Regions from separate parts of the Homo sapiens genome. Here regions 1, 2 and 3 are each linked to region 4. Evidence: fine-mapped QTL for protein levels in blood plasma. A gene starts in region 4. Each other region holds a variant in brackets. All regions are shown on one strand. Distances are between the middles of the regions. Region 1 overlaps CDCP1 (CUB domain containing protein 1). Region 2 overlaps CDCP1 (CUB domain containing protein 1). Region 3 overlaps CDCP1 (CUB domain containing protein 1). Region 4 holds the start of CDCP1 (CUB domain containing protein 1).

Evidence for each region. PIP is the chance, under the fine-mapping model, that this variant and not a neighbour inherited with it causes the effect. Protein levels are from antibody-based Olink assays in UK Biobank. Linkage for the fine-mapping came from a reference panel and not from the study's own genotypes, which makes the PIPs less certain.
Region 1: its variant is fine-mapped to the plasma level of the CDCP1 protein (UK Biobank, PIP above 0.99).
Region 2: its variant is fine-mapped to the plasma level of the CDCP1 protein (UK Biobank, PIP above 0.99).
Region 3: its variant is fine-mapped to the plasma level of the CDCP1 protein (UK Biobank, PIP above 0.99).

Annotation. Positions count from the first base shown.
Region 1 is chr3:45,092,798-45,100,901 of GRCh38, reverse strand. It overlaps CDCP1 (CUB domain containing protein 1), which reads left to right. Exons shown (of 9, transcript NM_022842.5): 5 at 5,334-5,555; 6 at 7,245-7,625. Among named protein-coding and RNA genes, the nearest start is that of CDCP1, 50 kb to the left of the region's middle. The variant A/C (reference allele first, on the strand shown) is at 5,307.
Region 2 is chr3:45,106,939-45,115,042 of GRCh38, reverse strand. It overlaps CDCP1 (CUB domain containing protein 1), which reads left to right. Exons shown (of 9, transcript NM_022842.5): 3 at 2,598-2,960; 4 at 4,202-4,570. Among named protein-coding and RNA genes, the nearest start is that of CDCP1, 35 kb to the left of the region's middle. The variant A/G (reference allele first, on the strand shown) is at 4,959.
Region 3 is chr3:45,083,075-45,091,177 of GRCh38, reverse strand. It overlaps CDCP1 (CUB domain containing protein 1), which reads left to right. Exons shown (of 9, transcript NM_022842.5): 7 at 1-5; 8 at 2,037-2,124; 9 at 5,111-8,103. The coding sequence ends at 5,540. Among named protein-coding and RNA genes, the nearest start is that of CDCP1, 59 kb to the left of the region's middle. The variant C/A (reference allele first, on the strand shown) is at 1,991.
Region 4 is chr3:45,142,398-45,150,501 of GRCh38, reverse strand. CDCP1 (CUB domain containing protein 1) reads left to right here and starts at 4,124. Exons shown (of 9, transcript NM_022842.5): 1 at 4,124-4,296. The coding sequence starts at 4,215.

The sequences.
Region 1 (8,104 bases), 50 kb after region 4:
TCCCTCAAGGATATCATGAGGATGAACAGCCTAACATTGTAATTGATCCTCTACCATATACCAGTTATGTGGAGCCATGAAGTTCACATTCTGGTGGGAAAGATGAACAAGTAAAAGGAAAATCATGACTTCCTGTTAAAGATGGCTTTACTCCCTTCATACACCCTACTATAATGGGTTTTCTTAGAACATTTTTAAAGCATTTTAAAACATTTTTAAGGTACAATTTTTTTGTATTTTTAAAGACATAAAATTCAAGGAAGAAAGAGAAATAGAAAGGAAAAAATATCGTATAACATTTCATAGAGTAGAAAGGTGGTAACTGATCCAGCAGATGTGAAAGGGCAGAATCCTAAGCCAACAGTGGGAAAAACCAAGAAGAAATCTGCTTTATCCTGCAAAGCCTCAAGAATTGGCAGCAAGTCTCCTCCAGAACTGGGGGCAAATGTGGGGCTAAGGTGGGAAGAGCCACTAGAGCCCCAGATGGTCTCCTTGCCAACAAGCAGCCAAACAACTGTTCTTCCCTGAGCTGACAGAAGAGAGAAGTTTCTTTTCCTGAGATGAGAGTCCCTGAACCAAAGATCCCAGTCACACTGAAGGTGGAGGTACTAAGCTGAACACGGGGGATTGAGTAAAACTGAAGTACTGAGCATGAGGCTCCATCCTTCCTTCCCTGGTGCCCATGGGTATGTTTCTTCCCTTCGGTAGAGAATGACTTCTTCTCTGGGGGCATCTGACCAATCTAAGAGAAAAGACCCAAAGATATTGATGTTATGGGCTCCCCAGGAAGCAATCTGGCCATATCACCCTACTGAGAAGCCCAGTCAACAAGCAGAGCTATTCCAAATAGCATTAGTGCCTCACTTTAAATAAGAGCAGTATATAGATCCCCAGACATCTGGTGAAGCCTAATGAAAAATACAAAGACTAAAACAAATGAATAGAAGAAAAGCCACTTGCAGGAAACAGAGACTATAGAGGGAGAAAAAACTAAAAATCAGCTATCAAGACTCTCAAGTTAATAAGAAGAGATGCTGCGTTTATGTAAAAGGAACCGGTTGTAATTTTTAAAAAGGGCTTTCAGGAGAAAGCTCGTTTTTAATCTCCAAGAGTTCAAAGGAACTCTTGGAGATTAAAAATATGTTAGCAGAAATGAAAGAGTCAAAAGGGCTGAAAGATAAAGTTGAGGATATCTCCCAGAAAGTGGAGTGAAGAAAAAGCCAGCGCGATAGAAAGAAAGAGAAAATATAAAACTCAAGGACCAGTCAAGGAGGCCCAATATCCGGATAGATGGAGTTTTACAGAGAAAAAATAGAGGGAAGGGAATCATCACAAAATATTTCAGGAACATTTGCCAGGACTGATGGATATGAGTTGCCAACTGGAAGGGGCCACCACACACAATGGATATAAATAGACCCACACCAAGGCACAGTATTGTAACATTTCAGAATATCAGGGACACAGAGACCCTACAAGCTTCTAGAGAAGAGGTAAAAAAGTTTTATACGGAGGAAGAAGAAACCAAATGGCAACAAACTTTATCAGCAACACTGGGTATTATAAAACAATGGAGTAAGATCTTCAAAGTTCTGAAGGAATATTATTTCCAACCTAGAATTTTATACCAAGCCAAACAATTAAGTGTGAAGGTGGAATAAAGACATTTTTAGACCTACAAGATCTAAAAAAATTTACCCCCATATATACTTTCTCAAGAAGCACCTGAAGGCTGTAATCCACCTAAAAAGAAAGTAAAAATTAAAAAAAAAAAAAAGAAAAGAAAAGATGGATCCAGGAAGCCCAGGATCTAGTCCAAGAGAGAAGCAAAGGGAATCCCATGATAACAGTGAAGGAGATCCAGGATCACACCTGAGCACCAGGCATCAAGAGCAGCCCCTTTAGATTAGAGCATTGAAAAGGCTCTGGAGAGATTTCTTAAGAAGTTGAGGAAGTACCTAATGTTTTCAAATTTATTGAAAGGAGATTTATACAAGTGGAAGAGAGTTTGGGTATCAAATTATTGATAAGTACATAGAAACTAAGGAAATGATTAAAATGATAATAATTCACTACAGGGAACACAAAATTTTATGCAGAAAGGAAAAATCATTATAGCATGCAATATAGTGTAGCTACCTAAACACTGTTAATATTATTACATAGTCACGATTACACAAACATAGAATGAAGATCTAGCTGAAAATATGACGCTAACTATCAGGAAGATGGGAGAATGGGAATGGGAAGTGTGTGTGGTGTGAGTGTTCGCTAGTCTGTGCTGTGTTGTGGGGGTGTGGGGTGTGGAGGGGGTGTGGGGTGAAGGAGGAGAAATCCACATCTTCCTGAGTGGGAAGCCAATAGACAGTGCCTGAAACTGAAAGATCCATAGGCAGCAATGGAACGGAGTGTGTTATTGAGCAATGGAACAGAGCATGTTTTACTGCGGTTATCCCAGGCTCCTCCCCTGGGGTAACCACAGTCACGGATTTGTTATATTTCTCTCCATATCTTTTTTCTCTTCATCTGCATACATAAATCTGTACATATAAATAGCTGTTTTGTTTCACAGATACTCAGGAGGCTAAAGCAGGAGAATCGCTTGAACCTGGGAGGTTGAGGCTGCAGTGAGCTATGATCACGCCACCGCAGTCCAGCCTGGGTGACAGGGTGGGACTTTGTCCCCCAAAATAATAATAATAATAATAATAAAGGCTGAGAATCTCTGCTTTAAAGTATGTGCATGCATGGCTTTGGTAAGATGGAAATGAGGGAAGAGCGGGTGGGGAGACCACTGCAGTGTGTGGCGGGGCCTTGGTAAAGGTAAGCAGGGACTGCAGAAGCAGAGGGGCTTCTAACACGGCTTTGGGGTGGGGAGGTGTCCTGCAGGTAACAATGAAGGTGAGTTTTGAAAGACAGTAAGAAATGAGCTGGATGTGGGGCCAGGTGATTGAAAAGCTGACTATTTTCCAAATCAAATTATATTTAAGTTAGCAGCATTAGAATATATACTTCAGCTCTAGACATGGCATCTCTCTAATTAAAGCACTATTGGATGTGATGTCAAAATTTACGTGGAAAATAGACAGCAAGAACTACAGCAGGCAATTAACAGATATGACAGCCATAAAACATTTTCCTAATTGTGCTACTAATTTGACACCGAGCTTCCCTGCAGCCAGTTCAAGAGGAGAGAGTCCATCAATTATATGGTTCCTGTTATGAGGAAGAAGGAAGTTTAGCAGGCCTTTTTGGAAATAGAGCTTTCCCAGTTAGAATTGAACTCATTCGCCGGCGCTGATGGGTGATATTGTCAACACCCTTGAATTGCAAAGTTAGCACCACTTTGCACAGGCGCCTTCCTAATCTGATGGGCTTTTTTTTTTTTTTTTTTAAACAAAAGAATGAATGAAATTCAAAAGCAACTCAGTACAAGTTGATCCCCAGGCATCTGTGGTGTAGAGCTTTCTAGGGATAACATTAAAAAGTGAAATGAGTCTTTTATAAACCAATCTGGTAATCTATTCTAAAGAGTTGAAAAGGTATCCCTATTCTTTTTTTCTTTTCTTTTCTTTCTTTCTTTCTTTTTTTTTTGGAGACAGAGTCTTGCTCTATTGCCTAGGCTGGAGTGAAATAGCGGGATCTCGGCTCACTGCAACCTCCACCTCCTGGGTTCAACCGATTCTCGTGCCTCAGCTTCCCGAGTAGCTGGGATTACAGGCGCCCACCACCATGCCCAGCTAATTTTTGTATTTTAGTATTGATGAGGTTTCACCATGTTGGCCAGACTGGTCTGCAACTCCTGACCTCAAGTGATCCACCCGCCTCAGCCTCTGAAAGTGCTGGGATTACAGGTGTGAGCCACCATGCCTGGCACTGTTCATTTATTTCTAATGGCAAAATTATAGAAATCACCTAAATGACCAATAATCCAGCAGTTTTCCAAATGATGCAAGAAATAGGTAACTATGTTCTTGTTAGAAATTTAAATATTATAGGCAAAGCTAAAATCCTCCTTGACCACTCAGTCTGTCTTTACTCCCAGGCCCCTCCTCTGGGGTAACCACAGTCACGGATTTGTCATATTTCTCTCCAGATCTTTTTTCTCTTCATCTGCATACATAAGTCTGTATATATAAATAGCTATTTTGTTTCACGGAGAGATTTTACCATCTGCATTGTATCATACTCTACATATTATCTACAACTTGCTGTTCTGCTCAATATTTATATTTAGGTTTTCAAATCTCCCTCTTTTTTTTTTTTTTTTTTTTTTTTGAGACGGAGTCTTGCTCTGTCACTAGGCTAGGGTGCAGTGGTACAATCCCAGCTCTCAACAACCTCCGCCTCCCGGGTTCAAGCGATTCTCCTGTCTCAGCCTCCCAAGTAGCTGGGATTACAGGCATGTACCACCACACCCAGCTAATTTTTGTATTTTTAGTAGACACGGGGTTTCAACATGTTACCCAGGCTGGTCTTGAACTCCTGACCTCAGGTGATCTGCCCGCCTCGGCCTCCCAAAGTGCTAGGATTACAAGCGTGAGCCACTGTGCCCAGCCTCCCTCATTCTTTTTAACAGCTCCGTAATATTCCATTGGTGAATGTCCCCATAGTTTATCTATTCCAGTATAAGGTGGTCTCTAGTTTCCCACAATCACAGTGCTGCAGTTAAACGTGGGCACTCATGGCCATGTCACACTGTTTGGTTCCCAGAAGAGACAAGAGTTCATTCTTTTACTAATTCCCATGTTTCTGTAACAGGGTGTTCCAGGCTCCCACTGGCCGTGTGCCAAAGGGCCTGTTTCCTGTAGCCTCTCCAGCTTTCAGTATTGCCAGACATCTACATTTCCCCCCATCTGAGGAGTGGGATACAGTAACACTTTGTTTTAACTTGCATTTTCTGATTACAAGTGACATTAAGAACTTTCTATATTTTAAATATTTAGTCATTTATATCTCCTTTCCTGTGAGCTGCTCAATCATTCTATATTGCAAACACTTTCTCCCGACGTGTCCCTTGTCCTTTAACCTTATTTGTAGCACCTATCATCAGACAGATATTTTAATCTTTTTTTCACTTTTATAATTTGTGTTTATGCCACATTTTTAATGATTTTCTCTTTGTTTTTATTGTAGTGAAGTCCATTATTTTTCTTTTTAACTGTCTTTTATAGTTATTGTAATGTTGCCTTAATAATACGTTTTCCCAACATTATCCATCCATGGTCTGATATGCCATTTTCTTCCTCAGGAGAGGTTTTCTACCAATTTTTGCCATTTCCCGTGTTGCTGCTGATCCATGCTTC[A/C]TGCCTGTTTTCTGTTTGTGGTTTCAGATAAAATCTACGTGGTTGACTTGAGTAATGAGCGAGCCATGTCACTCACCATCGAGCCACGGCCCGTCAAACAGAGCCGCAAGTTTGTCCCTGGCTGTTTCGTGTGTCTAGAATCTCGGACCTGCAGTAGCAACCTCACCCTGACATCTGGCTCCAAACACAAAATCTCCTTCCTTTGTGATGATCTGACACGTCTGTGGATGAATGTGGAAAAAACCATAAGTACGCCCCTGAATCAGTGCATTTGTCCCTGGCCATGGATAGCTCTTCTCTCCCCGCCTTGCCTTAGTGGGGTTCCCTGGGTAGGTTGTAAATCATATCAAAAAGGCCCATCTGGCCGGGCACGATGGCTCACGCCTGTAATCCCAGCACTTTGGGAGGCCAAGGCTGGTGGATCACTTGAGGTCAGGAGTTCAAGACCAGCCTGGCCAACGTGGTAAAACCCCATCTTTACTAAAAATACAAAAATTAGCTGGGCATGGTGGCAGGCGCCTATAATCTCAGCTGCTCAGAAGGCTGAAGCAGGAGAATGGCCTGAACCTGGGAGGCGGAGGTTGCAGTGAGCCGAGATTGCACCACGCACTCTAGCCTGGGCAACAGAGTAAGACTCAAAAAAAAAAAAAAAACCCCACCCACAGTGCAGGTGAGCAAGGGTGACCAGGAGGCAAGCAGAGTGGGTGTCAACACGTCCCTTTGGACCAGCCTCAGGTAGAGCCTGCAGCCCTCAGAACTGTGTCATACTGCCCCATGTTCAGGCTTATGTCTCTCTGCCCAGCCTTCCAATCTTCCTCTTGTGAGATCCTCTCCTCTCTTGCTCAGACTTCCCCAGCCTCTCCCATCCCCATCCCCCCACACCCCACACCCCCACTTCCACACTCACTGCCCTCTTGTCTTCTCTCACACAAGACTGTGATTCCTGAGGTCAAGAACTTTGACTCGTTCTATTTTTCATCCAGTTAGCCCCTACCGGTGCTGGACATGCACTAGTCACTTGAAAAATGTTTGATTGGCCAGGCACAGTGGCTCATGCCTGTAATCCCAGCACTTTGGGAGGCCGAGGCAGGCAGATAACTTGAGGTCAGGTTATCAGGCAGATAACTTGAGGTTGGGCAGGCTGGTCTGCCAACATGTCTGCCCAACATGGCGAAACCCCATCTCTACTAAAAATACAAAAAATTAGCCGGGCATGGTGTTGGGTGCCTGTAATCCTAGCTACTCGGGAGGCTGAGGCAGGAGAGTCGCCTGAACCCGGGAGGTGGAGGTTGCAGTGAGCCGAGATCGCACCACTTCACTCCAGCCTGGGCAATAGAGTGAGACTCGGTCTCAAAAAAAAAAAATGTTTGATGACTGAAGGCCAGTAAACCAACAGCCACCTCCTTGCTGGGCTACCATGACTTCTGATGTGTGCTCTTAGTTCAAATGCAGGAACTAAGGCCACAAGAGGCAAAGTAGCCTGCCCAAGAACACCCTATTAGGAAGTGGCAGAGCCAGAAGACGAACTAACATCTCCCCAACGCCACTCACAGCTCCAACCACTGCCCAGAACTGCCTCCTGAGCAACACGTCTGGGTGGAGTGAAACCTGTGCCCTGCCCCATGACACTTAGCATCTAAGACACAGATACACAGAAGAAAAACTTAAGCAAAAAAGGAGAGGAAATTTCAACCCTGAGTACTACCCAGAAGTTTGTTTGCCAGCTTAGTAAACAGTAAGAATGTTTACTAAGAGAGCAGAGGGACCGCTAGAAAAGGAACACAGAGGAGCCAGAAGCAGAGGGCAGGGTGGGAGAAGAGAGACCGAAGGGAAACACAGGGCAGCATGCAGACACCCAACCTCAGGCTGACGGGAGAGCTGGGGAGGGTGCACTTCTGGTCTCCTTTGTGCATGGCTAGCATGCCCCACTTCTTCCAGGCTGCACAGACCACCGGTACTGCCAAAGGAAATCCTACTCACTCCAGGTGCCCAGTGACATCCTCCACCTGCCTGTGGAGCTGCATGACTTCTCCTGGAAGCTGCTGGTGCCCAAGGACAGGCTCAGCCTGGTGCTGGTGCCAGCCCAGAAGCTGCAGCAGCATACACACGAGAAGCCCTGCAACACCAGCTTCAGCTACCTCGTGGCCAGTGCCATACCCAGCCAGGACCTGTACTTCGGCTCCTTCTGCCCGGGAGGCTCTATCAAGCAGATCCAGGTGAAGCAGAACATCTCGGTGACCCTTCGCACCTTTGCCCCCAGCTTCCAACAAGAGGCCTCCAGGCAGGGTCTGACGGTGTCCTTTATACCTTATTTCAAAGGTAAGGGGGGTCTCCCCTATCTCCATGCCCCTTTAGTTTAAGCGTTTATTTGATTTTAGTTTTGTGATCACCTTAATTAAGTTGCCAGTTTGGAAAGAAGGGATAGCTCAATATGCTGGTCCTTGCACAAGAAATTTGAAAGATAGTGAGTCCTAATCCTGACTTTACCATTAACCTAGCATGGAAAATTCCTGAGATTAGAAATAAAAAATGTTTCTGACAGTGAGAGGCGATGGTTGGTAGGCAGCAAAAACATTATCAGGTTTGAGTCTTTTTTGGAAGCAGGCAGGACGTAAATGAGAAATAGCCAGATATTCCCCAGTCCCGGATTTTTAAGGTAGTGACATAAAAATCCTTAGGCAGACATTTTTATGACTCTGCTTTTACAATTCAGAATGCAGTGCCGAGAGCACAGAGGGAGGAGCGTTGGGAGGGAGACGAGTCTCTGGAGCCAGAGTCCAGCAGCACGGCTGGGCAGA
Region 2 (8,104 bases), 35 kb after region 4:
TTAAACCAATAAAGTGACTTCCACTTTGAAAAAGGAAAAATGTAACAAGTGACACATTTCACAAGTCAAGCCTTTGAATGCATTCAGTCTCTCAATCCTAGGATGCCCACATGGCTTACTATGTAGTAAAAACCCATGCTCACAACTTTTGAAAATGATATGAAAATATCAATTTCTAAAATAATAAATCTAGACACTGAATCAGGTCCAGTGGTCCACCTGCCCTTCATTGCCTTTTCTGAACAATCATTCTGAAATCAGCATCAGATAAAATTTGATGTCTCCATTCTCATCTCTTCTTGAATAGTTCCATGAGAACTAATGAAAGTTGGCTGAGCATGGTGGCTCATGCCTGTAATCCCAGCACTCTGGGAGGCTGAGGCAGATGGATCACCTGAGGTCAGGAGTTCAAGACCAGCCTGGTCAACATAGTGAAACCCCTACTAAAAATACAAAAGAAATTACCCAGGCATGGCAGCACACACCTATAGTCCCAGCTACTTGGGAGGCTGAGGCAGAAGGATCACCTGAACCTGGGAGACAGGTTGCAGTGAGCCAAGATGGTGCCACTGCATTCCAGCTTGGGTGACAGAGCAAGACTGCATCTCCAAAAAGAAAAAAAAAAAAAAGAGAGTTAATGAAATTAGAAATCTGCTGGGGAAAATGAGTTTATGAATCACTTCAGAAATAATACTTCTCCATCCTCTGGACAGGAATCATTTTAGTTATTTAAAATGTTTTCACTGGACAGAGTACAGGAGAAGATTCCGAGGCATGCCAATCATTTTGACTACTCTTACCTGTGTGTTCATCCTAAAAAACAAAGCTCTTAGCATCAAATGAAAAATTGCTTTCATAACCTGACTCTCACAGTGTCACATGGCTGCTGACAGAGCTGAGGCTGGGAGATGGGGCTTTTTGACTCCAGATTTTACTATAGAATTAAATCAGAATCCCTGGGATGGTCCAGGCATGTGTAGTTTTTAAACGGCCTGCAGGTGAGTTGTAGGTAGAACCAGAGCTAAGAGTCACTGCCTTACTAGAGTTAAATGTTTCCACAAGAGTACAGAACCTAGCCAGAGCCAACTGATGTTGCCCTGGGCACACTGGAGGTGTGCGTGGAAAATCACTTGAGGTCTGCTTTTGAAAGAAAGAGGTGGCTTGATATAAACATTGAAGTTTCCATGAGCTCCTAAAATAGGAACTACCTTTACTAACACGCAAAGTCTAATTTTAGTCACGTTAGTCACCATGTTATCTAACCCTGTGTTATTGGTTAGACAGCATAGCGCATTGGCAAGAAAGGGCTGACCAAACACAGCCTGAGCTTTCGTCCTGGGATCTGGAATTGCCGTGTACTTGCTGCAAGTGCCAGCCCAAGTCACCTGGATCCACAGCTGCTTTGCAAAAATTAGAGGTCTGGCTTGGATGACCTCAGAGATCCAAGACTGATCTGAAATTCTCCATAATTCTATTTTGAGTGGACAATACTTTCAAATACCCCAATAGAACAGCAGTAAAGATTCACAAATTATTATTATGGAGGCCAGAGTCTATCACACCTTTCAGATGCCCCCTGCTCAAAACAACAAAACCTTAATGTTACATTGCCTACTTTCTGTTTCGTCCCCTCACTTTCCTCTTGTTTTCTCTTTGATAATATTTCTTGCTTTGTTTTAAAAGGCTTAGGAAACAAATATATCAAAGGATGTTATTAGCTGTTAGCCTTAAAAAAAGAAATTCAACTGCAGTGGTTATAAAATATCAGCATTAAGGCAGTGCAAGAAGAGAAATGGCGCCGCCAGATTCCAGCTGTCCAGGGGAGTTGCACGTTCAGAGTATATTTGCTATGTTGATGAATGTGTTGATGGGGAAACCAGTTTTAAAGGATGGATCTTGGCACTGTGCTCTACAAATTGTGAAATCGTGACTCTCTTAGTACAGGAGAAGTAGGAGATCCCAAAGCACAGACTCTGCTACAAATGCCTTCCTTCTGGCTTCACCCACTGGACCCCAGGAACTTAATCTGGAAATCACAGTAGTTAAGAGATGTCTCAAGTCTGGTGACCTGGAAGCAGAGCCTGAGACAGGATTTTTTGTTTAAGTCAGTGATCAAGAAAGTGCTCTCAGAAGTGAGGAAAGCAGGATAGAGCAGGGCACGTAGCTGAATGCAGATGCGGTTTTAGCTGAAGAGTAGCTTCAGCCTGACCCCATGGGGAGCTCTGGAGTATGAATGGCATACCCAGGTTACATCACTTGAAGCAAGGAGGTCAGACTTTTTAATTCCTGCAGGAGGCCATTATTGGCTGTAGACAGCACCTCTCCCTTGGGATGGGCATGAGGGGCTGCAACACCTCTCAGGCTTTTCTGGTTCAAGGCAGCTCCCCCGAGCTGAGGCACTTCCCCGAAGGAGGGTACATCTGTGAGCCATTGGCCACTAAGACTCACAGCAGTTGGGGCCTGGGTGCCCCTGCCTGGTAAAGGCCACCTTGGGGGAGCCCCAAAGAGTCTACTACAGGGGGCTGAGTGGTGGAGGAGGAGTGGTGTGGGGCCTTGGAGCATCTGTGATCAAAATTGCTTCTGTGACTGTTTTTCAGACTGTATGTCAGGCCCATGTCCTTTTGGGGAGGTTCAGCTTCAGCCCTCGACATCGTTGTTGCCTACCCTCAACAGAACTTTCATCTGGGATGTCAAAGCTCATAAGAGCATCGGTTTAGAGCTGCAGTTTTCCATCCCTCGCCTGAGGCAGATCGGTCCGGGTGAGAGCTGCCCAGACGGAGTCACTCACTCCATCAGCGGCCGAATCGATGCCACCGTGGTCAGGATCGGAACCTTCTGCAGCAATGGCACTGTGTCCCGGATCAAGATGCAAGAAGGAGTGAAAATGGCCTTACACCTCCCATGGTTCCACCCCAGAAATGTCTCCGGCTTCAGCATTGCAAACCGCTCATCTATAAAACGTGAGAAAGCCCCTCCCTGCTATCTGATTAGGTTAAAACACACAAGATCATCATTGTTCTAGGTCAGAAATGGTCAAATGTCAGCAAATCTCTAATACTCAATATAAAAACCATAAAGGAAGATCTAGCTCTCTTATAAGTGACATGGGTCATGCATTCCTAGTGTGAACCCCCTCTTCTCTATTAAACAAACGGGGTGATTCTCTTTGTCCTTTTTGCATGTGATACTTGTTTTCAAAAAAATGACAAGGGATTGGTTCTACAGACCCACCTTGATTGCTTCATTTCTAACTTCTTTGTCTTCCATCTCTTTCACATTTTCTGTAAACGTATCAGTGATGTGCAGAGCTCACTCACACTGGCTCATAAAAGCTGTTTTTTGTTTTTATTTTTGTTTTTGTTTGTTTTGAGAAAGAGTCTCAGTCTGTGGCCCAGGCTGGAGTGCAGTGGCACTGTCTTGGCTCACTGCAACCTCTACCTCCAGGTTCAAGCGATTCTTCTGCCTCAGCCTCCCAAGTAGCTGGGACTATAGTCGTGCGCCACCACACCCAGCTAACTTTTGTATTTTTAGTAGATACGGGGTTTCACCATGTTGGCCAGGCTGGTCTCGAACTCCTGACCTGAGGTAATCCTCCTGCCTTGGCCTCCCAAAGTGCTGGGATTACAGGCATGAGCCACTGCACCTGGCAGAGAGCTGACTGTTAAGTGTTCAGGCATTTTGTGAGCTGATGTGAAACAGATCCGTTATAAAAAAATAGAATTAAATTAACATAATTAAATAAATTATTTTTAAAACAAAGGTAATAAATACTCAAAACTCATCACTTCCTAATTATTTTACTGTTGCCTGTGCTTTCAGGGTTATTTGTGTTGTCGTATCTGTATGGAGGGAATAATATAAAGGTGTGCTACTGCCCAACTCCACATTCAGTCACCTGGTGTTGGTAGCTTGAAATCAACCGTGGTGGGATTATTTACATCCACTATGGAAGTGGGCAGACGCTATAAGTCAGGGCTCTCCCCTCTACCACTGGACCGGTTTTTAATATTTACTCGCACACCACTGATGTGTCTGCATTCCCAATCTCTGCCTTGAGTCCAAATATACAGTATCTAGACCCACTGCTCAGGATCTGAGAACTGCAGTCATTTTTCCTACACCCCCACCCCTCGGCTGCAGACAACCAGGACAGGGTCTAATGGCTCCCTATTCTTTCTGGTTTGGGTTCCACTCCCACTAGGTCTGTGCATCATCGAGTCTGTGTTTGAGGGTGAAGGCTCAGCAACCCTGATGTCTGCCAACTACCCAGAAGGCTTCCCTGAGGATGAGCTCATGACGTGGCAGTTTGTCGTTCCTGCACACCTGCGGGCCAGCGTCTCCTTCCTCAACTTCAACCTCTCCAACTGTGAGAGGAAGGAGGAGCGGGTTGAATACTACATCCCGGGCTCCACCACCAACCCCGAGGTGTTCAAGCTGGAGGACAAGCAGCCTGGGAACATGGCGGGGAACTTCAACCTCTCTCTGCAAGGCTGTGACCAAGATGCCCAAAGTCCAGGGATCCTCCGGCTGCAGTTCCAAGTTTTGGTCCAACATCCACAAAATGAAAGCAGTGAGTGAGCCCCACTTTCCTTTTTCTTCCTCCTCCAGCACCTTCGTTGTTTCCTGGGTAGTCTGCCTGGGTGAGGCTCCCTTCCTGTTTCTCATCTGTGGCTTCTGAAACACTTAGACTCTGGACCCAGCAAGAGTTTCAGGAAGTGGGTTGCTAGGCAGTTAGACAGGCTTGTTGGTGAACACCCGGTATGTAGTTCCATTTCAGCACAATAAAAAGAAATCTTGCATTCAAGATGCTAAATTGTTTTTAACGAAGGCATTGAAAGGTCATTTTTCTAGATCTTATGTCTTGACCCTGCAATGTGAATGAGGATGTCACCCGCACCATCAGCGATGATGATGGGAACTTACAGTTTTATGGCTCAGCACCCCTACTATGGACACAT[A/G]CTCTGCATGTCATCTTGTGTTAGGCACGCCACTTACACAATCTCAGCTAATCTTTATTGCAACCCTGTAGGGGAGGTGGGAATTATCTTTATTTACTAATGAGAAACCAGAAGGTTCAGAGAGGTTATGGAACTGGCCTGACATCACACAGCTTGTTAAGAGCAGAGCAAGCTCAGAACCCTGAGCCTGTGCTCTGGCCCACACTGAAGCCCAGTTAGGATGATGAGAATTAGGTTGGACATCATTCCACAAAAGTTGCTGAGATGCCATGAACATAGAAAAGCGGAGTTAAGGCCAGGACTAGGGTAAGGCAAAGTGCCCAGGGTGCAATATATAAGGAGGTACCCACTCTCAGGGTCATGTACCTGCAAGGTCAGCCCCTGAGAGTGAGCACCTCCTTAAACTTTGCTCCCTAGGTGCCTGGCTTGCCTCACCCCAGTCTTGGCCCTGAGGGGTGTCGTGCAGATTTTGAGATAAAAGATACAAAATTAACTCAGACTGGCTCTTCCTGGGCCTCATGCATGATGTGAAGGAGTGAGTTGTGGCAAGTGGTCTCCAACCAGGACATTTCTGATGTGTGTTGCTAAGGATGGACGCTGTTCAGAGGGCTGATTCTCATTCTTGTTTTTACTATTATTTACTTCTAGGAAGTAGGCAGAGCCAGGCAGAAAAATTAAGTGGGAGTGTGGAATGGCGTGCTGCTGTTTTTTGTAGGGCTGATAAGCATCTGAAAAGTGGCAGTGTGGGATCCACTAGAGGGATTGCCCAACTGGTGCTGCCCTGGAAACGTCCATATGTATGTATGTATAATGTGTGTATAGATATATATACAAGGGGCCGGGCACGGTGGCTCATGCCTGTAATCCCAGCACTTTGGGAGACCAAGGCAGGCAAATCACTTGAGGTCAGGAGTTCGAGACCAGCCTGGCCTACGTGGCAAAACCCCGTCCTACAAAAAAGTCAAAAATTAGCCAGGCATGATGGCGCGCACCTGTAATCCCAACTACTTGGGAGGCTGAGACATGGAAATTGCTTGAACCCAGAAGGCAGAGGTTGCAGTGAACCGAGATTGGGCCACTGCACTCCAGCCTGGGTGACAGAGTGAGACTCCATCTCAAAAAAAAAAAAAATATATATATATATATATGTATACATGCATATATATATATATGTATACATGCATATATATATATATGTATACATGCATATATATATATACATGCATATATATGTATACATGCATATATATATATACATGCATATATATGTATACATGCATATATATATATACATGCATATATATGTATACATGCATATATATATATACATGCATATATATGTATACATGCATATATATATGTATACATGCATATATATATGTATACATGCACATATATATATAGTGTGTGTGTGTGTGTATCCATTGAGACATTTTTATGATTCCACTGTCACAACTGTACAATCAGAATGTTGAAAACAGCCACAAAAGGATTTAGAAATGGAGTGGGCTTGGGGTTTAGAAGACAGGGGGATTTGTTTATCACCTCAGTCATGGTGGAATGCTGCTTAGAAGCTCTGATTAATTCTGCTAACTGTAACATCAGCTGGGTTGATTTCTAAAACTAATCAAATTGTTAAACGTGCTATAAACAGCATCAAGAAGGACATGGATTTAGTGCTGAGATTAAAGGGCAATAACTGCCGTTGAGAGGTGTTTAGCAGTGTCAAGCCCTCTAACTTTGCACTGTTTCTAGCGGAGTGAGTGGACTTGGCGGCAGAAATATCTTTGGGGATAAATTTAGGTTGGGCTGGACTGCCTGAGAACTCTGATCTCTGGGCAGCTTCATCTTGATCCTCTGAACCTCTATGTGGACCCTAAATTTCAAGGGCTAGCCCAAGGAAGCCAGTCCTGTGCCCCTACCTGTTTGTCTGACCCATTCTTTTTTTTTCTTTTTTTTTTAGGCAGAGTCTTGCTCTGTCACCCAGGCTGGAGTGCAGTGGCGTGATCTCGGCTCTCAGCTCACTGTAACCTCCACCTCCCAGGTTCAAGCGATTCTCCTGCCTCAGCTTCTTGAGTAGCTGGGATTACAGGCGCCTGCCACCACACCCAACTAATTTTTTGTATTTTTAGTAGAGATTGGGTTTCACTATGTTGGCCAGCCTGGTCTTGAACTCCTGGCCTCAAGTGATCCACCCGCCTCGGCCACCCAAAGTGCTGGGATTACAGGTGTGAGCCACCACTCCCAGCCCTCATTCTTTATTCTCTCTCATTTGCTAAGTGTTTGTAGGCAGCTTGTATTGCTGGCAGCATAGCCCCATTAAGGATAATGACCTGGAGTTGGCCTGCATGGATTTGAATCTGGTTCCCCCACTTACTTTGACCATGGGCAAGTCACTTCACCTCTTTGTGACCCAGTTGCTCATCTGTAAAGTGGAAGTGGTAAGACTGTCCTCATCGGGGTGTTGTGAGGACAGTGTGAGGTAGCACAGTGCCTGGCAGGTAGTGAGCGCTCTTTAAATGTTTCCTGCAGGGTTCTAGGTCAAGGCAGGCATGCAGGGTTAGAAAAGACACAACACGGGCCGGGCGCGGTGGCTCATGACTGTAATCCCAGCACTTTCAGAGGCCGAGGTGGGAAGATTATAAGGTCAGGAGTTTGAGACCAGCCTGGCCAATATGGTGAAACCCCATCTCTACTAAAAATACAAAAAATTAGCCGGGCGTGGTGGCAGGCACCTGTAGTCCCAGCTACTCAGGAGGCTGAGGCAGGAGAATCGCTTGAACCCGGGAGGTGGAGGTTGTGGTGAGCCAATATTGTGCCACTGCACTCCAGCCTGGGCAACACAGCAAGACTCCATCTCAAAAAAAAAAAGAAAGAAAGGAAAGAAAGACACAACACTTGTTCAAACAAAGAGATTAGACTGTGGCTCCAGAAATGATTGGTAGGATGCAGCAAGTCACTCATGGAAGGAATTCCAATGGCATGTGGTGAGGTTGGAGGCAGGAGAGTGGACCGCAGCTGGTAGGAATACTAAGGGGAGACTCTGGGCAGAGTCTGGCCCTTCTCAGGCTGTGCAGGAGGCCCCATCTGTGCCAATGGTGTGTGCCGCTCATGATCACTGGAAGAGCTCTATGTGCTGCTCCTGC
Region 3 (8,103 bases), 59 kb after region 4:
TGTGGGTAAGGGCCTTCAGGGTCTTTGGGGACAGTGATGAACAAAAAATTGTCAGCTGGAGGATAGAGAGCAAGCCTGGAGACAAGTCAGAATCACAGATTGAGTCCTGACTGTCCATGTATCAGTCAGCTATTGCATCAATAGTGCTGAGTAACAAACCATCCCAGAACATAGTGGCTTAGTAGCAGCCATCTATTATTGCTCCAACGTTGGCTGGGCAATTCTGGTCTGAGCTGGACTTATCAGGGCTCAGTCATTCATGCACCTACTGGCAGCTGCAGGTTGGCTAGAGGACTTTGCTGATCTTAGCTTGGTGCTTTCAAAAAGCTGAGGCTCAGCCAAGATCATCTGAGACAACTGAGATTACTTGGCTTGACTCTACATGATCTCTTGTTCTCCAGCCTGGGCTGTTTTCATGGCAGAGGCAGAGAGATCCACAAGAGACTGGAGGAGGCATATAAGGTCTTTTGATACTTTTAGGTTAGGAACTCACACACCATCCCTTCGACTGCATTCTTTTGGCCAGCCTAGATTTTTTTTAGTCAATCTACCAGCATCCTTTACCATTCATCTCTCTTTTACGTAGGGGAAGTCTCTTCACACCTATGATCTTCCTCATCTACAGAGAGTAGATAATAATAGCCACCTCATAAAAGTATCATGGGATTCGGTGTCATGAATTAAAATATGGGGACCTGAAAAGTCTGACAGGTACATGGTTTTTTGTTTAGTCTCAGTGAAACGTTGGAATCCATGAAATACCCTCAGTGGGAGGCCTTGGAGCCAGGATGATGAGTTTGCCTTTATTCCTCAAAGTCATGGGCACCACTAAAGGGTATCAAGCAAGGGAATGCAGGTGTGGCAGGGCAGGCTGTGGTGGGGCCATGTCTGCCCTTTACTCAGTGAAGGCACCGAGCATCACAGTGTCAGAATCAGAAGGGACTGTGGAGGCTGCTTTTTTCCCTTTCCCTTTCTGGGGGTCAGAGTGATTGAAGGTCCATCCAAGCCACACAACTGGTTAGCCTCAAGAGAACTGGTGGGAGCCAAATGCCACAAGTGAAAACCTCTCCACACTCATAGATTATATCCTGGGTTTTCTTCCTCTCTTAGATTCATTTTCTGTCATTTCTTTCCATTCCTCTTTCCTTTGGATCTCACCTTTTGTTTTCTTGGTGAATAAGCAAGACATTCTAATTCGCTGTTTGGTACAGGGTTCCCCCTCTGATTTATTTTCTTTTTCCTTTGTGCAGCTGCAGGAAAAGGACAGCACAAAGGAAACAACCCTCCCTTTAGCTGCCTCACTTCTGACTTTTGACTCCCTGCTTTCTCCTACCCTCCTCTGCTCTTCTCTTCTCCAAGACAGGCTGTGGCAATCAGTGGAACACACCTGTTGTAGGCCAGGAGTAGCCTTTGAAGTTGATCTGGTAGGTCCCTCAGTTTGTTTCAATTGTTCATTGCTATATACAAACTACCCCAAAATTTGGTGGCTTTGGCAATAGCTATTTTGTTTACCCACGATTTATGGATCAGGAATTCAGACAGGGCACAGCAGTGTATCTTATCTGTGCTCCAGGATATCTGGGGCCCCAACCAGAAGCCTTGAACAAGTAGAGAGGATGGCTTGGAGAATTCAACTGGAGACATATGTCTATGGCCTTTGGTTCTCACTGGGTTGATTTTTTTCCCCGGTGGAATCTCTACATGGCTAGCTTGGGCTTTCTCACAGCATGGTGGTCTCAGCATAGTCAGACTTCTTACATAGTAGCTGGCTTTCTCTCAGAGAGAAAGTGCAAGCTGACATCCTCTTAAAAGTTAGGCCCAGAACTGGCACAGTTGCCTTATATTGGCTGACCCAGATCCAAGAGGAAAGGAAATAAACACTTTGTGATATGAGGAGCCCCATGTGCACACAAGGAGCCACATGTATGGCGCTCCACCTTTGGAGAGATGGCAGCTGCTTTTGGAGATGCCTCAAGTTCATTGCAGAGCT[C/A]ACCCCAGCTGCCTCTTCATCTGTCTCTTTATGTCTCTGCTCACAGACTTGACTGTCATCCTCATCGCAGCGGTGGGAGGTGGAGTCTTACTGCTGTCTGCCCTCGGGCTCATCATTTGCTGTGTGAAAAAGAAGTAGGTGGAATCTCTTACTCTCTTTATCTGATTTGATGCCTCCTCAGATCACACAGACTGGGTGGATTGTTCATTATTGACTTTGTTTTCTTGCTTCCCATTTTTTCCCCCAAAGATCAATGTTAAACAATATTGCCAGGTGTGAGTCATGCTTTCAGGAGAAAAAAAATCCCATGCCTGGGGGTGAGGGGGGGATAAAACACACGTGACATTTTCACCTGTATGTAGTTCATGGTGCAGCTGCCTCAGCACAAGTCCCCTGCAAGCAGAGTGCTGTTTGCTCAGTAGATTGATCAAGCAGGAGTGATCTTGGCAAGAAAATGCTCACGTAGGCTCTGCCAGACTGTGCCTCTGAAACCACTCCCTCCGTCACCCTAAGGAGAACGAATGTGTGTTGTCCCAGCTTGTTCTCCTGCAGTTTCTTAAGCAAACTGCTTTATCCTTGCCTGTTGGGCTCCAGGTATGTAACAGAGGCCAGGCCTGTGGCCCAGAGGAAGGAAGGCCCAGTTAACTGCCTCAGTCTCTCTTTCCATCCCCTCAGGAGGACAACTTCTGTTTTATTTATTTATTTATTTATTTTTGAGACAGAGTCTTGCTCTGTTGCCAGTGGTGCAATCTCGGTTCACTGCAGCCTCCGCCTCCTGGGTTGAAGTGATTCTCCTTCCTCAGCCTCCCGAGTAACTGGGACTACAGGCACACACCACCACGCCCAGCTAATTTTTTTTGTATTTTTTTGTAGAAACGGGATTTCACCTTATTGGCCAGATTGGTCTTAAACGCCTGACCTCAAGTGATCCACCCACCTTGGCTTCCCAAAATGTTGGGATTACAGGCATGAGCCACCGTACCTGGCTGAGCTTCTATTTTATAAAAGGAAAATGTTGACCTTTTTAGACAGAGTCCGTGCTGCCGCCAAACTGTATAAATTCTGCTCATATTTCTGACTAAAGTCATGGGAGAGAGAAGAGAGCTATTTTCCTTAACATGGTTTGACCTTCCAAAAAGCCAATCTGAAAAAATTCTTTTTTTTTTTAAGACAGAGTCTCACTCTGTTGCCAGGCTGGAGTGCAGTGGCGCGATCTCGGCTCACCGCAACCTCCGCCTCCCGGGTTCAAGCGATTCCCCTGCCTCAGCCTCCCGAGTAGCTGGGACTACAGGCACCCGCCACCACGCCCAGCTAATTTTTTTTTGTATTTTTAGTAGACACAGGGTTTCACCATGTTGGCCAGGATGGTCTCGATCTCTTGACCTTGTGATCCACCCGCCTCGGCCTCCCAAAGTGCTGAGATTACAGGCGTGAGCCACCACACCCAGCCAAAAAATTCTTTTTTAAAAATTAACTGTGGACCTGAGCAAAGAACTGAAATTCCTAGTCTACAACAAGACTGTCTACAAATGTCTCTGCTGATGAGGAAGGACTGGCTTGCAGGAGGTCTTTTCCCCATGAGAAGTGGCTGTACCTATAACACATGGGGGAAAAAGGACTGCTTTTAAGGAAACATCATGTTACTGTTTCTCTCAGGGAATTTTCCCATCTGCGGTGCACGGAATAGCCCACCCAGTTGGGGAAGCATGGCATTAACACTGGGCCCCAGGTTCCTTATCAGGAGGGAATTGGACAAGGAACGAGATCCAGCACTTGCCTCATCTTGAAACAGCGCCAGTTTAAGCCTGAGAATCGTCAGTCCAGCCTTGCTACAGGCCTTGCTTGTGTGAGGCTGCTGGCTGGCAGGTTTGCATAAGGCCTGTCCGTGCCCAAGCTGTTGTAGGAGGATGGACAGGTTGTGCAGTGAGAATGAGGAGAGACAATGCCATCTAACATGTTCACTAAGCGGGTACTTCCTGAGTGTCTCCTGGGCACTAGGATTCATTGAGGTACTGGGGACAATGATGAGTGAGACAATCTCTTCTATGGGGGCAGGGGGACTGAAAAGACAGGCAAATAAACAGTCAGTTTCAGGATAGCATGAGAAGAGCTTTAGTGGGGACAAACATTACAGGGCTTCAGGCAGGAGCCTTAGGAACCCATCCTCCTGGCCAGGGGCTCAGCGTTACAAGCTGAAGGTACCAGGTTTATTTTTATCTCAGCAAAGTACAGACAGCCTGTCCACCATTATGAACTGCCAGCCTGTGCCTTATATGGCCCATTACGCTAATTGAGCTAATGTCCTCCATTTGCATCACTGGTCAGCTAAAAAGTCAGCATTCCCTGCTGTTTGGTTCACAAAGATGGAGAGCAAAGCTTTGTTTTCTGTGGCAGCAAGCGCTAATGCCCATGCAGGTCCAAGTACCAAAGAACATTATAAACCAAATGCTAATGGTGTTATTGAAGAACTCTGGCACTGCAGCCTGAATTTTGTCTTCTTTTTAGCTCTTTCCTCTGTTGGGGGTGACTACTGAGGCACTGGGTCTCTCTGCTAATGCTGAGTTATCCTCTCCCCAGCTCATACTGAAAACTAAGATACAACCTGGCCTCCTGAGTCTCTTGTATCGCCATTTAAAATCTAGATGGTCAGAGCTTTTCCCAGGCAAAAGAGAGATAAAGCATGAGCTACGGGAAAGTACTAAGAGTGCGGGAGGATTGACCTAGGCATGACTGAGCCTGATGTGGTTGAGAAGGTCTGGGACACTGCCCATTTCTGGTAGAATGGAGGGGAAAGAGATTGTCAGATGTCTCCACCATTGGATACCGCATATCTATCAAAAACGAATTGAGCACAGATAGTGATAGAGGTGCCCTCTCTAAACCACTCTTCTACTACCTGTGATCTCTGTTTCCACTTTGAAAACTGGAGACAAAATCAGGTCCCTTCTAAATGTTCACTGAGGACAGTAGTTTCAGTTTCAAATGCTGAGCAATCTGAGGGATTTGGGGGAGACATGGTCAGAACCCTAAAGAATCCAAGCTCTAGCAGGGCCATAGCAATGGTACCCATCGAAGATTCTTGCCTTTCTGACTTCTGTCTTGTTCCATTTTTCCAAATAGGAAAAAGAAGACAAACAAGGGCCCCGCTGTGGGTATCTACAATGACAACATCAATACTGAGATGCCGAGGCAGCCAAAAAAGTTTCAGAAAGGGCGAAAGGACAATGACTCCCATGTGTATGCAGTCATCGAGGACACCATGGTATATGGGCATCTGCTACAGGATTCCAGCGGCTCCTTCCTGCAGCCAGAGGTGGACACCTACCGGCCGTTCCAGGGCACCATGGGGGTCTGTCCTCCCTCCCCACCCACCATATGCTCCAGGGCCCCAACTGCAAAGTTGGCCACTGAGGAGCCACCTCCTCGCTCCCCTCCTGAGTCTGAGAGTGAACCGTACACCTTCTCCCATCCCAACAATGGGGATGTAAGCAGCAAGGACACAGACATTCCCTTACTGAACACTCAGGAGCCCATGGAGCCAGCAGAATAACTTGATCCATTCCAGACGCTTTGCTGAGTTTCATAAAGCAGGGCACTGAGACACCCGTCCGTGTTCCTAACCAGAAATCCTAAAGAAGAGGAATTATACAGAAGGAACAGCAGGAGGTTTTCCTGGACACCGCCAACTTCACATTGCTCAGTGGACTCATTCTAAGGGCAAGACATTGAAAATGATGAATTCCAATCTGGATACAGTCATGACAGCTCATGTGCTCCTCAACTTAGGCTGTGCGGTTAGCCAGCCTGTAATGAGAGGAGAGAGGCCTGAGTCACCTAGCATAGGGTTGCAGCAAGCCCTGGATTCAGAGTGTTAAACAGAGGCTTGCCCTCTTCAGGACAACAGTTCCAATTCCAAGGAGCCTACCTGAGGTCCCTACTCTCACTGGGGTCCCCAGGATGAAAACGACAATGTGCCTTTTTATTATTATTTATTTGGTGGTCCTGTGTTATTTAAGAGATCAAATGTATAACCACCTAGCTCTTTTCACCTGACTTAGTAATAACTCATACTAACTGGTTTGGATGCCTGGGTTGTGACTTCTACTGACCGCTAGATAAACGTGTGCCTGTCCCCCAGGTGGTGGGAATAATTTACAATCTGTCCAACCAGAAAAGAATGTGTGTGTTTGAGCAGCATTGACACATATCTGCTTTGATAAGAGACTTCCTGATTCTCTAGGTCGGTTCGTGGTTATCCCATTGTGGAAATTCATCTTGAATCCCATTGTCCTATAGTCCTAGCAATAAGAGAAATTTCCTCAAGTTTCCATGTGCGGTTCTCCTAGCTGCAGCAATACTTTGACATTTAAAGAGAAATTTAGAGAATATTCTCATCCTCTAAAAATGTTTAAATATATACCAAACAGTGGCCCCCTGCATTAGTTTTCTGTTGCCACTGCAACCTATTACTTGGTAGCTTAAAAACAACACATTAGCTTATAGTCCTGGGGATCAGAATTCCAAAATGGATGTCCCTGAATGAAAATCAAGGTGTCAGCAGAGCTGTGCTCCTTCTGAAGGCTCTAGGGAGAAGCCGGTTCCTTGCCATTTCAAGCTTCTAGAGGCTGGCTGCATTCCCAGGCTCCAGTGGCTGGTCAAGCTTTTCTCACATGGCATCACTGTGACACTGGCCCTCCCACTTCCCTCTTTGACTTACAAAGCCCACCAGGAAGATCCAGGATAATCTCTCCATCTAAAGTTCCTTCATCATCCTGGAAGAGCCTTTTGCCATGCAAGACAACATAGCCACAGGTGGGGATTAGGACCAGAACATCTTTGGGGTGCTGTTATTCTGCCTACCACACCTTCCTGCCACTGACTCCCACAGGAGAGGCTACAAAATGATCTGGCGCACAGGGATGTTTTGTTTAGCTTGCGGACTCTAACACTTAAAAAAAAACCCAGATCAGAAGATCTGGCCATGCTGGGGCTCACATTCTCACCTAGCAACAACTGGCTGGAGCTGGGCACCAGCTCTGCCTTTAGAAGGGGTGTCCACTTCACCAGGTCACCACAGCCCACACTACGCCCTATCACTTCCCACAATGAGGCTGAGTGTTTGTTTCTACTGATCAATGCCCCTGCAGGTTGCATTTATTGTAATGAAAAAGAAAGACTGGGATTAATCTCTAATCAGGTGAGTAGACCATGAGACCAATGTGTGCTCACATTACCCTTTTTCTTTTTTTTCTTTTTCTTTTTCTTTTTTTTTTTAATGTGAGACAGGATCTCATTCTGTTGCCTAGGCTGGAGTGCAGTGGCGCAATCTCGGCTCACTGCAACCTCTGCCTCCTGGGCTCAAGCAATTCTCCCACCTCAGCCTCCCAAATAGCTGGGATCACTGGCACAAACCACCATGCCCAGCTAATTTTGTATTTTTTGTAGAGACAGGGTTTCACCATGTTGCCCAGGCTGGTCTCAACCTCCTGGGCTCAAGCAATCCTCCTGCCTCGGCCTCCCAAAGTGCTGGGATTACAGATGTGAGCCACCGCATCCAGCCCCACACCCTCATTTATACCAATTACCTGCCCAGTAACTGTGGACTTTTGCTTCCTCACCCCTGCTCTGATCTGGAAGGAGAGGGATTATGTTATAGCTTGTCAGCACAGTCCCAAGTTCAATATTTCTGCGGCAAAAACTTCCTTCAAAAAATAAATGTACTTCATTGTATTCAATGAATTCACCTTGGAAATGCACCGCCTCAACTTGTTCACATGGCATAAATGAAAGGAATTTTATAGTCTCCTAAATGGCGTGTACTGCAAGACCTCTTGAACACTTTCCAGAGGATAGGATATTTAAGTCATGCCCTTGGCGTTGCCTATGGCACCTTTCCCTTCTGAAAGTCTGGTTCCTGCCCAGTGACCCTTGGCCTTGTGAGCCGAGATGCTGACCCTGCATAAAGGGCCAAAGGAGGGCTGCGGCTTCCTTCCCTCACTGAAGAGCCCTTATTTGAATTCACTGTGTGGAGCCCTAGCCCTCCATTCTCGACATTCCCCAACCTCCCAGCCCCTTCCAAGCAGGACTAGGTGCCCTGCATTCCACCCAAGGTG
Region 4 (8,104 bases):
CTCCTGAGTAGCTGGGATTACAGGCACACACCACCACGCCTGGCTAATTTTTTGTATTTTTAGTAGAGACAGGGTTTCTCCATGTTGGTCAGGTCGGTCTCAAACTCCCAACCTTAGGTGATCCACCCGCCTCAGCCTCCCAAAGTGCTGGGATTACAGGTGTGAGCCACCACACCCGGCCTTGTTTTGTTTTTTATAACATGCTGTTCCTGCTTCACAGAGAGAATGTTGTCTGACACCAAATTATAGTTGCCTACATCACTCTAAGAGAGTTAGTAATTTTTTTGTTTTGCTTCCTTTTATTTTCTTCTCTTTGTATAGTCTTTCAGGTTGCTTCTTTCTTTCTTTCTTTCTTTCTTTCTTTCTTTCTTTTTTCTCGGTTTGGTTACTTGGTTGGCTTTGACTCTAATATGTTAGAAGCTCTCCTCAGATATCCTGAAATCCTGATTGCTCATGTTTAAAAGTGAGATATTGGCCAGGCACAGTGGCTCACGCCTGTAATCCCAGCACTATGGGAGGTTGAGGTGGGTGGATCACATGAGGTCAGGAGTTCGAGACCAGCCTGGCCAACATGGTGAAACCTCATCTCTACTAAAAATACAAAACTTAGCCAGGCGTGGTGGTGTGCAACTGTAGTCCCAGCTACTTGGGAGGCTGAGGCAGGAGAATCGCTTGAACCCGGGAGGCAGAGGTTGCAGTGAGCCGAGATCGCGCCATTGCACTCCAGCCTGGGTGACAGAGCGAGACTCCATCTCAAAAAAAATAAATAAATAAAAATTAAAATTAAAATGAGATATTAAAAAGCTAAGTTGGTGGGGCTTAATTGAAAGCCTCATGGTAGGAAGCTGGTTGGCCTGTTTATGAGGGTCTAATGTCCATATGTTTGGGTCTTTCCTCCTGTGCTGGTCAGACTCCCCAGAAGAAGACTTTTTCCATCCCCAATATGGATAACAAAGCCTTTTTGTCTCATCCTTGGATGCAGGTTGGGGCCAGACAGCTGGGGATCTCAGCATTCAGAATGCATATCTTCCCTTTATTTACCTACTTTTACAATGTTTCCTATGCTTTCAGCTATGCCTGGCATCCCTCAGCCCACATCCCTAGGTTTTAATCTCTCCAGAAGACAACACTAAAGTTGTTAAGCTTACCAACCCTCTAACTTGTCAAGATCTAAAGATCGATAATATAGGCAGACTCACATCAAGGCACATTATGGTGAAATTTCAGAAACCAATGAACAAAAAGAAGATTCTACAGCTTTAGAGGCAAGAAAAGGGTCTCAAAGAAAATAATAAAAATGAGAATGGTTTTGGATTTCTCAAGAACAACACTGGAAGCTGGACGAGGGACTGTTGCCCAGGCAAGGGTAATGATGGATGGGTTCTGGGATCTAACCACAGTACTTCTCAAACAGCTTTCTTCTAGCCTTTCTTGTTTAACTCCTCTTTCACCCTCCAGTTGCAGAATACCTTGTGCTGCCATTTCCTGAGGATCTTTTTTGAGGATTTCTGTGTTAATCGTGTTATTTCTGAGTTTTCCCCACTACTGGCTTAGGGTTCTGCCATCTCCAGGCTCCTAAGGCAGCTACCACTAGTCCAGCTGCTGTCTAGCTTCCAGGGTGATTTTGCTGTTGTCTTCTCTCTGTTCTTCCCACCTTTGTGGGCTTATGTAATTTTTTTTAATCCCTGTTTTACAGCCTTTGCAGGGTTTCAGAAGAGGTCAAAATTAGATGGGACAGTCTGTTTTAAGACTCACCTTCCTTTTTTTTTTTTTTCTTTTTTTAGAGAGAGAACTTTACTCTGTCGCCCAGGCTGGAGTGGAATGGTGCAATCTTAGCTCACTGCAACCTCCACCTCCCAGGTTCAAGCAATTCTCCTGTCTCAGCCTCCTGGGTAGCTGGGACTACAGGCGCCCGCCACCACAGCCGGCTAATTTTTGTGTTTTTAGTAGAGATGAGGTTTTGCCATGTTGGCCAGGCTGGTCTCCAACTCCTGACCTCAAGTTATCCACCCACCTTGTCCTCCCAAAGTGCTGGGATTACAGGCATGAGCTACTGCACCCAGCCGAAAATTTACCTTTCAATCTCTCATTTCTCTCTAGCACTAGATTATAGTTACCTACGTTGCTTTCCAGTTCAGAAATAACCTTTTAAAATTTACTCCTTCCATTCAGCCATGTTTGTAAAGACAAAACATGTCCATTCTTGGCAATGCTTTGTTCACACTCCACTTGGAGGACCAGGACAGTATGTCAGGACATCTTTACTTCAACTATGTAGTTGGGTTGTCACGCAAAGGATGCTGAAGTGCCTCCCTATTTTCTTCTTTCTCGTTGCTGCTACTTTCTGGAACCACCACCAATGCTTCATATTTGGGAATTAGTGACTCTCATTCCATTTTCAGAAAGCTGGTGTCAACTATCCCAAGAAAGACAGTTAAGCAAACTTTGGAGAGACGAAATAGTAAGGAAATAACTTGTTCCTTAGGCTTAACTTGTCAAGCAATATTTCTGATATTTTGCATTCAATACACTGCCATTCTAGTACTGTTGTGGGTATTACTGTATGTGGGAAACAATGGTGTCATGGATGTTAGGAAAAGATGCTGGGATATATATGCCTGCTTAGAATCAGGAGAAAAGACAAATCTCCTTTCACCCTCCTGGTCAGCATAAATATTTTTAAAGATTGTTTAGATTTTTGTCAAGATTTCTTTCTCTTGATGAATTTGTCCTCGATTCAGTGGGGAGAACCAAGAGCCTCTCTTCGTTTCTCATCCTCTCCCTTCCCTCTAGTTCTCAGTTTTCCCATTTTTCTGCACAAGGACAGAAGTGGACTAGAAGATTACATCTAAGGTCCCGTTTAGCTCACGATACAGGCCCTCCCAGAGGTGGGGGTGTGGGCAGGGTCATGTTCCAAGTTCTGCCTCCCTCGATGGACTGTGGGCTCCCAGAGGGCAGAGCTAGCTCTATTCTCATGATTAAGGACATCGAGAAGGAAGGGGTGACGCTCCTAGGAGATGATTTCCCACCCCTGTCCACAAGGAGGATTGGGGCAGCCTGGAGAGGCTCAGTGCCCGCAAGAATTAAGCAGAAGTTGGGACTGGACTGTAAACTGATGCTGTCGCACATGCTTTGGTTCCTGTCCCAAGCCTCCCAGGTTGCTCCGGGTGACTCTGGCCCAGCTTCTGGCTATCCATGAACACAAGTAGTCCCAGGGAGTCATTCTGGCAGAACCCAGGTCTGCTAGCTAAGAACTCCTGAACCATCCGCAATCTCTGCCTGTGGCCTGGACTTGGTGTATGGCCGGCAGGGTGGAAGGAGAACCCACAGGGCCTCTGAAGACAGGCAGGTGGCACACCTGCGGCTGGGAGGATTTGGAAAAGGAGTCCAGCGCCATTCATTTTTCATTCATTTTCCAGCCCAACGTTTGACCTGAATGCTTCACGCTCACACTGCACACACTACTCCATTTATAATACAACTCGAGAAGGGCACATACTACTCCATCCACAGCTCAGTGAAGGGATGCATACTACTCTACTCACAATTCAACGAAGTGGTGCATCTGCCTCTAATTTACTAGCTACCCTGGGGACCTTGGACACGTTGCGTGTCTGGAAATACTGCAGGTGATGTGTGTGGAGTAGGCTGCAGGCTCACCGTCCTGCAAATACTAGCTGTACCACCACCGGCTTTAAAGTCCAACAGACCTCTGGCCCAAGTCAAGTAGCAGAGGATCCAGGGCTTGGGTGGCCCACAAATAGGATTCTTCTCCAAAACGAGGCGCATAATGGCCTTTGTCTCCTCGACAGAAAAGGGAAGGTAGACTGGCTTCCTCTATGGGCGACCTTCGCGACTCTGGAGAAAAAGACCTCATCATTCTCAGACTTGGGAAGGAAGACTAAGCCCGGAAAGGTGGGGACAAGTCCGCTCCAACGCCGCAATGGGGAGTAGTAGGGACCCAGCAACCCGGTGCCGGGAGCCCTGCACCCTGGGAGGGAGAGGCGGTCGCTGAGGCAGGAAGAGGAGGAGGAGAGAGAGGAGGGACGCACCGGGTCAGCTCGCGATCCTGCTGCGCAGGGCGGGGCTCGGGCCGGTCCGCCCGCGCGCAGGTGAGTGAGCCAGGGCGGAGCGCAGCTGCGCCGGGCTTGGGCGCCTGGGGCCGCCGCTCCCCACCGTCGTTTTCCCCACCGAGGCCGAGGCGTCCCGGAGTCATGGCCGGCCTGAACTGCGGGGTCTCTATCGCACTGCTAGGGGTTCTGCTGCTGGGTGCGGCGCGCCTGCCGCGCGGGGCAGGTGAGTGCCGGGCTTTGGAGGCGGATGGCGTGGAGTGGTGAGCTAGCCAGCCAGCGGACGCCCGGCGGAGATGCGGCCGAGGGACGCAGGGTGCGGAGGGTGCGGAGGGTGCGGAGAGAGGGCGGGGACGGCGTAGTCAAAATGCGCGGGTGGCTCCGGGACCCCCGGACTGTTCGGTTCCTGCGCGCGCCGCGTCGGGCGCGTGGGCCTTGCCCTCCTGGAGTCAACCTTGCCCTCGGCACGTGAGAGTGTCCCCGATCGGGGAGCCTCCCGGTCCGGGAGGATGAGCCCGGTGCTGGCCGAGAAGGCGGGAAAAGGAGCTCCCGGTAGCCGATCCCAGGCGACATGTCCAAGGTGGCGCGCCGTGCGCCCCAGGGTCTTTGCCGGGATTCTTGAAAGCACCCAGGCAGGGTGTGGGAAGAGATCTTTCCTCTCCAGGCTCGCCCTCTACCTCCTCGCCTGGTCCAGAGAGAAGGTGCAAAAAAAGTGCTTTCACGTCCGCATTTCCCACTAGATCCCCTTTTTCCCGTCCGCACGCTGCATTCCCCCTCTCCTAAAGTTGAAGAGCGTTGGTGCAAAAATGAAAGCGCCCGGATTTCTTTTAGGGGGTCCCAGAGAAAGCCGCCAGGCATCTGCGCCACCGCAGAGACTGGACATTCCCGCGCCCCTCGCACTTTTTGGCAGTGGACTTTGAGGGCAGGAGGCTGTTGTTCCGGGGATATGTGTGAATTTCGAGTTGTTTCGGTTGGGGGAAGGGACCAACACGTCCCAGTGACCTGTGCCAGCCAGGAAATGCCCTGTGGGCCCTGGATGTATTAGAACGTAGTAAATAACCTGGTTTCTTCATGTAAGAACTTGATGTGAGGCTAGTACAGGTTTCGCGAGATTAGTACAGGTTTTGTGTTTTTTAAATAGAGCTCTCCAGGAAGCCATGTGGGTTTGATTCCCCTTGCTGCATCTAGGGTGGATTTGTGTTTGGCAGGTGTAAATTAGATAAAGGAATAAAAGGACGCAAGTGAGGTTGAATTTGGGCGTCCCGGTGACTGCCGTCTTTACAAATACAAGACAGGAGCTTCTAAAATATCAATATAAGCTCCAGGAATACTTCCTGGTTCATTCTCCAACATCAGGTGACATATTGCTGCATAGTAGATAGAAAATTTAAAACTTCATTTAAACCATGGCATGGATTTATAAATATATATATAAATTATATATATTAAAGTAGAGACAGGGTTTCACTGTGTTGCCCAGGCTGGTCTCGAGCTCCTGAGCTCAAGTGATCCTCCCACCTGGGCCTCCCAAAGTGCTGGGATTACAGATGTGAGCCACTGTGCCTGGCTGATGAATATTTACTATAATTTCTTAGGACTGAATTTCCAAGATTCCCTTTGAAGAAAAAGAATTAGTTTAAGAATAAAAAGGAAGTGAAAATATGTGTATATGTGTGCTGAGAAAAATGCGTGCCTACCAGTCTTGGAACAGTATTGAAACTCTGGGAATTATCTGAGATGTTTTTGGCTTTCTGTGACAACAGTGGGGAACTCTTCCAGTCAGAACAGGGTGTTAATCAAGGCATTGCTAATAATGAGAGCCTCTGTTCCTGGTCTCATTTCTCCCTGTGATCTGGGAAGGCTGCCATTTTGGTCCAGTAACTCCAATGGAGTCCCTTCCAGGAAGTCCTTGACTGGCTGAGCCCTGTCTCATGGTTCAATACATAAATACGTAGAAACCTAGGAACTTTCCCTTTCGCTTTCTTAAGTTCCTCCCTATGGTCTCAGGAACTGGCCCTTTGAGGGTACATCAGGCTGAACTGAGAGCTTTTGTGGTTGGAGTAGTTGCCTGTAGTCTTGAGGATCTAAGTGGCAAAGGCCTTTGAGAAATTCCTGGAGACTGTCCTGAAAGGATACAGAAAGCCAGAGCCCTGGCACAGTGGATTTGTTTTATAAATCCATGAAGTCTCTTAACAAAGAAAGACTCAGCAGAGTAAAAATGAATTTGGTGTCACTGCAGAGATGAAAAGTAAAGGAAAGTTTGTGTCTTGGTGTCGTGTGTTTGTGTGACTTTGGTATCCCCACCAACTCCCCCATTTCCAAGAGTGAAACACTGGTTACATTGGGATCATAGCCTTTTGAAAACCTCCATTTGGTTGCTTTCTAAGAACCACTCAGATACCAGAGTCTGGGTCAGTGACCCCAATCTTGCCACCATTGTCTCTTGCCAAAAATGTGAGCAGACAGATCAAATGATATATTCACACTCCCTGGGTGAGTGTGGGTGTTCATTCTGTTTCCGATTCAAATGAGGAGCTACTGGCTGTTGTCTGGAATGTGTAACTGGTAGCGCTGATGAGTCTCCCCCATCTCCTCCCCCACATCCCCACAGATTTGCATGACTTGGAGTCAGACCTGTTAGCCCTAGGGCTCACCTCAGATGCTGCCATTTCATCTATGATGGTTGCACGCCTTGCATGTGCACACACACACTCTTCTGGGTGTTCTCCCTGGCTATCAATATGGGGGAAGGAAGTTAATAATTAAGATGTTTTAAGTAGCATATAGTTATTGTAGAAAAAGTGGCAATAAATATAACCAAAATGGAAAAAAATTATCTATAAGCAAACTGCCTTATTCACTTTGATGCAGTCTTCTTAATGTGTATGTATGCACGCTCATGTGCACAAACCAAAAATGGGATCATCCCATTGTATGGCTTTAACCAGTCCCCAGTTGTTGGACATTTAAGTTGCTTCCAGTTTTTCTTATTAAAAATAGAACACGTCCAACAATAGCCAGCTGCTTGTATCAATTTTAATAGGTCTATTCAGTGAAAAGGCACTTGAAATTACATAGCACAGACTAGAAAATGACATGAAAGGATGAACCATTATCCTCATGTTGCCAAGGTTATAAAATGGTATCAACTGGATTATCCCATTTTGATGTATCTAAGAATGTGTTCTTCAGCTGTGTTGTTCTGCACACTCTTTTTTTAAATTTTTGAGACAGAGTTTCACTCTTATTGCCCAAGCTGGAGTGCAATGGCGCGATCTCGGCTCACTGCAACCTCCGTCTCCCAGGTTCAAGCTATTCTCCTACCTCAGCCTCCTGAGTAGCTGGGATTACAGGTGTGCACCACCACACCCAGCTAATTTTTTGTATTTTTAGTAGAAACGGGGTTTCACCATATTAGCCAGGCTCGTCTCAAACTCCTGACCTCAGGTGATCTGCCCGCCTCGGCCTCCTGAAGTGCTGGGATTACAGGCGTGAGCCACCGCGCCCATGTTCTGAACATTCTTAACTATTTTGTCCAGCTACAGTTCTGGAAGCAGAGTTGCTGGGATGAAGAGTAGAGAGGCTCTTAGGGCTTTGGACGCGCATTTCCACGTTCTGGAAGCAGAGTTGCTGGGATGAAGAGTAGAGAGGTTCTTAGGTCTTTGCACGCGTATTTCCGTGTTCTGGAAGCAGAGTTGCTGGGATGAAGAGTAGAGAGGCTCTTAGGGCTTTAGTTGCGTATTTCCATGTTCTGGAAGCAGAATTGCTGGGATGAAGAGTAGAGAGGTTCTTAGGGCTTTGGATGCGTCTTTCCATGTCACCTGTGGAGAGCCTGTCCTGGTGTGCTTTCCAGCCATCAGTGTGTTAGTGCTTGTTTCTCACATTCTCCCAGGCTCTCCTCACTGTTGTTTCACCAGCATCTATGGAAGAAGCATTTTCCTCCCTCCAATTTGGCAAATAGAATCTGGACAGTGTTGCTGGGCAGACTCAAGAGTCTTAGAAGCACCACCCCAGCTGGATGGTACTAATAGCTC